2 separate regions of the Homo sapiens genome follow, and region 1 is linked to region 2. The links come from fine-mapping of genetic effects on gene expression. A gene starts in region 2. The other region holds a variant in brackets. All regions are shown on one strand. Distances are from middle to middle.

Region 1 (2,901 bases), 29 kb before region 2:
GAGGGTCTTCTCTCTGGTCCAGTAGTTCTTCAGAGCCCCAGGGTAAGGCAAGTCCCCCGCTATCTTCCCACTATACAAAAGAGAAGACGGAGGGTCAACTGACCAATGGCCAGGGCTATTCAGCAGCAATCTAGAGACCAGGTGTCTGGATGAAGGAACTCTGGTACCATTCCCCAACCTCACCAAAGCTCAGGAATAAGCCCATGGAAGCCAGTCTGGGGAGGTTCAGCCTGCAAACAACCTGATCATATGGCTGGGGCAATGGTTGATGGGGATATCTAGCCAAGTACACTTGTTGGCTATGTGGAGCTGAAGAAACTAACCTGGGTCTATTATGAAATATTTCCTGGGTAAGCACAGGCCCAGAAAAAAAGAAATAAATAACTATTTCCTGGCATCATGGTAATACTCAAGCTGAGAGCCCCCACCCATTCTTGGCCCAGGACTCCTCAAAGACAGTCTCCAGGGAGACCAGTCCCTCACAACAATGATCCAGAACCCAAGGGGGCCATGGGTACTGGTTGAACTTCATTGCTCGCACCGGTGAATAGCAAACTAACCATGATTTTTTTTTTTTTTTTTCTTGAGACAGAGTCTCGCTCTGTCGCCCAGACTGGAGTGCCGTGGTACCATCTCGGCTCACTGCAAGCTCCGTCTTCCGGGTTCACACCATTCTCCTGCCTCAGCCTCCCGAGTAGCTGGGACTACAGGCACCTGCCACCACGCCTGGCTAATTTTTTGTATTTTTAGTAGAGATGGGGTTTCGCCGTGTTAGCCAGGATGGTCTTGATCTCCTGACCTTGTGATCCACCCGCCTCGGCCTCCCAAAGTCCTGGGATTACAGGCGTGAGCCACCGCGCCCGGCCCCATGATTCTTGCCCTTAATGTCCAGTCCTTCAAACTGATGGAAATAATTACCCAAACCTTAAGGGAGCCACTCTCTTTCCCAAGGAAAATACAGAGGCGAGTTTCTACTAGAGACGCAATCAGCTCCATCCCTTCTAGGGGCTGAAGACCTAGGCCAGGGAGACTGACATGAGGTCCCATGAATTAGAAGCATCTCAGAAAGGGACCAGATGGGGATTTTCCCTGCCTCTCTCTGAAAACAGCCTGCCAATCCCCCAGCAGTTCTGAGCTAAGTCAGTTACATAGGTGGAAGGAA[T/A]TTGGCACAAGTAGAGAGGTCTGTTCAGTCGCAGGGCGGGCTGGGTTATGTTGTTGTTGTTTTCTCTGTGCCTATGCTTACCCAAGCACTGGTTATATTTACAGTACCATGTGATAACGTTAGCATCATATTGGAGCCTCACTGTTCTCATCCATTATTAGAAAAATAGGCTTCCCGACCAGGCGAGGTGGCTCATGCCTGGAATCCCAGCACTTTGGGAGGCCTAGGCGGGCAGATCGCTTGAATCCAGGAGTTCAAGACCAGCCTGGGAAATATGGCGAAACCCCGTCTCTACAAAAAAATTAGCCAGGTGTGGTGGCGCACACCTGTAATCCCAGCTACTTGGGAGGCTGAGACAGCAGAATTGCTTGAACCCAGGAGGCGGAGGTTGCAGTGAGCCAAGATCATGCCGTTGCACTCCAGCCTGGGTGACAAAGTGAGACTTCATCTCAAAAAAAAAAAGAAAAAGAAAAAAAAGAAAAATAGGCTTTCTGGCCAGGTAAGGTGGCTCATGCCTGTAATCCCAGTACCTTAGGAGGCTAAGGCTGGCTTGAGTCCCGGAGTTCAAGAGCAACTTGACCAGTCCTAACTATTTGGGAGGCTGAGGCAAGAAGATCAGTTGAGCCCAGAAGGCAGAGGCTGCAGTGAGCCGAGATTTCGCCACTGCACCCCAGCCTGGGCTATAGAGTGAGACCCTGTCTCAACAAACAAAAACAAAAACAAAAAAAAAAAAGAGAGAGAGAAAAACTGGCTTCCTAGGATAGTCCCAGCTTCAAATATCCTGCTTAGCTGTCAGACTCCATGTTCTGATTTGGGTTGTGAAATTGCGGGCCCCACTGAGGACAGTGTTGCCTTTCGGGCAAAGGACCTGGTATTGCATGTGCTCTGCAGGCCCCACACACTCTCAATAAGCCAGAGCTCAGCAGAGTTGATGTGCAGATTAAGAATAGGGCTCAGAAAGGACGGGCGTGGTGGCTCACGCCTGTAATCCGATCACCTGAGGTCAGGAGTTCCATACCAGCCTCGCCAACATGGTGAAACCCCATCTCTACTAAAAATACAAAAATTAGCCGGGTGTGGTGGTGCACGCCTGTAATCCCAGCTACTTGGGAGGCTGGGGCAGGAGAATCACTTTGAACCTGGGAGGCGGAGGTTGCAGTGAGCCAAGATTGTGCCACTGCACTCCAGCCTGGGCAACAGAGTGAGACTCCGTCTCAAAAAAAAAAAAAAAAAGAATAGGGTTCAGAAGAGGCTCCATGGGCAGCATTTCTGGACCTCTTTTAGAGTCGACATGGCAAGTATTTGCAGCCTGAGAAATAGGTTGAGATGTTGCCTTTCACCACCAATATAAGTAGTTCTAAAAACATCACCTGAAGTTTCAGCCTGTGCTGTTAAAAAAAATTAACCCCCGGTAAAATAACCTGAAAACTGTTCAGCAGTAGCCTCTAAAGTTAAACATAGGCATACCGTATGGCCTAACAACTCCATTCTTAAATACATATTCTCAGCAGAAAGGCATACATATGTGTCCCAAAGACATGCACAATTTGTAATAGTCAAAGCTGGAAACAACCCAAATTTCTATCAACAGTGGAATGAATAAATTGTGATATAGTCACAAAATATAGCTCTGAGACTGAGAAGAGTATTTTATGCTCAACAACATAGATAAATCTCATTGGGCAAGAGAAGCCAGACATAAAAATAGTATATACTATCTGATTCCATTGACATAAAGT
Region 2 (2,901 bases):
GGCCACGATGCTTTGGGGATGTTGGGCCAGGCTCCCCACAACCTCCTCCCGAGGCCAGACCCACCCCCTCCCCAGCTAGAGGCATTCCGAGGAGGTTGGAGCTTGACCCCCGATTCCTCCCCAACCAGGAGGCCAGTCCTTCTCCTTCCTCGAGAGAAGGTGAGCTCGGCGGGCGCAGCGGGTTGGGTGGGTGTGGCCCGCGGCTCCGGGAACAGACCCAAGGCCCCGCCACCGCCGGCTAGCAGCCCGACAGCCCGCCCGCCTGGCGAGCGCAGGCTCTTCTTCCAGAAACTGCGAGGATCCGAGCGTACTGTTTGTGCACCACAAGGTCAAGTCGGGAAGTGGAGCCGGAGGAGGAGGGGCGAGGAGGCGAAGGGTGGGGAGAGGGGCGCCCCGCTTCCTCGCCATGTGCCAGCCTTTGGAAGTTACCCCTCGGTTTTTAACCCTTTCGGGGTAATGGGAAGGAAGAGCAAGGAGGAAGGGGTCGCCCCGGGGCAAAATCCTGCTGGGGCCAGGATGTGCAACCACCCACCCACCCGCTCATCACTGCCTTCTCCACCCCCCGGAAATGCGGGGCAGCGCTAGGCGCCAGGAGGCACCCGGGAGGGGGGAGGGGGCGACGAGCCCAATGGGGACCCTCTCTACGGACCGCCCCTCTTTTCTTGAGGTCGCCTACAATTTCAAGTTCCCCCGCCCGGAATGTTAGTTTTCCATTTGGAGTGGGTGCGGGGAGGAGGGCCGCGCCCCCTCCCCAAGACTCGCGTTCGCCCCTCCACTCCCCTCCTGCCAGCACTTTCTGCTCACTTCTGGTGCTGCAAAACGCCACGCAATTTATTCGATTCGCATTTTAAAACCAGCGATTCAGAAGCAGGGCCTAGGGCGAGGGTCTTCCAGCGCTGGAGCCCCGGGGGGCGGGGTGCTCAGTGCAAACCTCGTTCCCTCCGCGAGTGTCGCCTCCAGGCTGTTATTTGCAAAGAAACGTCTTTTTGACGCAGGGAGAAATGGCAAATTTTAAGTACGTCATTAATATGGCGCCAAAAGATTTTTTTAAGTATAAGCTCGCTTTTTTTTTTTTTTAAGGTTGCGGGGGGCGCCGCCCGGGTCTGGGGCGCGTAGGGGGCGGGGTGTGAGCAGAAAGTGTGAGTGAAAGAGTGGAGGGGCGGGGTATGTGTGTGAGTGTGTGAAGTGTGAGCAGACCTGATGGGACTTGCACGGGCGCAGCCGCCGCTCGGGCCCGGCCCTGGGGACAGGGCGGGCTAGGGGCGCCCCAGAGTCCATGGGGAGTCCGGGCCCAGGGTGCCAGCAGGCGTGGTGGTGGGGCTGCGAGGGAGGGCACCCTTCCCCCACGGGGCCCGCAACGCTACCTGGACTCCCCGCCGGAGCCAAACAACTGGGCGGGGGGTTGGGGGGGCGGCGACGGGGGTGTCGGGAGCGGAGATCCGAGTGAATAAGAAAAAAGTGGCTACTCCCCCTCCCTCGCTCCTCCTGCCCGCCCCCACCCCACCCCCACCCCAACACATTTTTTTTTTCTAAAGAGATCACAAGGAAGTCTTGGTTTAAAAAGAAACAGAAACATACACAGGGGGTTGGTGAATGGTGCCGACCGCGGCCATCGCAGTTGGAGGCTATTTTTTGGGGGGGGTGAGTAGCGTCCATGGAGTTACTTTGCGCCCACTCCTAGCGGCACCGGCTTAGGTCCTGCGGGCCGACCGTCCCCGGCGGGGGGCGTGGGGCCTGGGACGCCGCGGGCCCGGCCGCCTCCCTCGCCGCGACCCCGGATGGATGCGCGCCCCCCGCCCTCCCGCGCCGGCCCCAGGAGCTCCCGGCTTCGGGAGCATCCTTCCCGCGCCGGTCCCTGCAGCGGCGCGTAGCCGAGGGCAGCGCCCGTCAGGGGGGCACCGCGGAGCAAGGTAAGATCCAGCCCCCGGCGGATGGGCCCTGCGCATCTCCACGACGTTATTTGGCGTTTTTGCAACAGATCTGCCAGCGCTCTTCGCTCCCTCGCTCTCTCTTGCTCGCTCGCTCCCTCTCTCTCCTGCTGGCTGCCTGTTCTAGGAAGCCAGCGCGGAGAGGGGGGGGATGCACAGCACAGGGGAGAGAGATTGCGCATGTTGGTCAGTCGTGTTTTAAAGAGTACAGTGCGGGGAGGCTGAGAGGGGCGCATGCAACAACAACTTTTGGAAGGGTGAGCTTGGCGACCTTCTTTATTAATGACTGCGGCAAAGCGCCCCCGGGCCGGCGAGGGGGCGCGGGCGGGCGGGGGCGCGCCAGGGCTGCAACTTCCCCGCGGGCTCCGGCCGGGCGTAGGGGCTGCGGCGGGAGATGGGTACGGTGGGGAGGTCGAGCGGCCCGGGCGGGGGCTCCGAGAACCTGGAGCTATCTGCCCTCCTGTCTCCCCGAGTTTCATTTTGTTGATACGCAGCACGTCCGGGCGCCGAACCGGGCTGAGCCGGTGCACATGACCTCGCGCTGGGCTCACGTGCAGCCGGTCCGGTCCCAGACACCTTCCGGGGGCCACCGCCTCCGCCCTGTCGCCCCCTCTCCCGGCCCGGTGCACGCGGGCGCTGCACGCGGGGGCAGCATGCTCGGCTCCTGGGGTTGGAGGCTCTGCACAAATTAGACAGTTTTTTTGGAGGGGCGGGGGACACCCTTTCCAGGTGAGTGTGGAGGGTGCGGAGCCTCGGCGCCAGGGGTGAGGACTGGGGTCGGGGGCAGCCTCCACCTCCGGGGCCGCGCGGTAGTCCAGCTGGGGAGAGGCGCTGGGAGAGTGGAAATGTACCGGCGGCGGCCGGAGCGGCGGGTGCGCGCCCGCGGGGCGACGGCAGGGGGCGTGGCCCTTGTTTACCTTCTCCCAACTCTGCCGGTTCGCGTCCCGCTTCAGGGACGGATCCGCAGTCCCCA

Alleles and levels. Positions count from the first base shown, and alleles are read on the strand shown. Sizes are in standard deviations (SD) of each study's normalised expression.
As copies of T replace A in region 1, the expression in cerebellar hemisphere of the gene that starts at base 1,569 in region 2 goes up (small effect, 0.19 SD a copy in GTEx).

Evidence for each region. PIP is the estimated chance that this variant, and not a neighbour inherited with it, causes the effect.
Region 1: its variant is fine-mapped to the expression of JADE2 in cerebellar hemisphere (GTEx, PIP 0.95).

What each region holds. Positions count from the first base shown.
Region 1 is chr5:134,495,223-134,498,123 of GRCh38, forward strand. No RefSeq gene overlaps it. Among named protein-coding and RNA genes, the nearest start is that of LINC01843, 9.9 kb to the right of the region's middle. The variant T/A (reference allele first, on the strand shown) is at 1,163.
Region 2 is chr5:134,524,102-134,527,002 of GRCh38, forward strand. JADE2 (jade family PHD finger 2) reads left to right here and starts at 1,569. Exons shown (of 12, transcript NM_001388185.1): 1 at 1,569-1,910. It overlaps LOC124901070 (a long non-coding RNA gene), which reads right to left and starts at 1,501. Exons shown (of 3, transcript XR_007058942.1): 1 at 1,365-1,501; 2 at 805-982. RefSeq lists silencers at 339-658, 1,239-1,288, 1,309-1,528, 1,659-1,738, 1,769-2,028 and 1 more.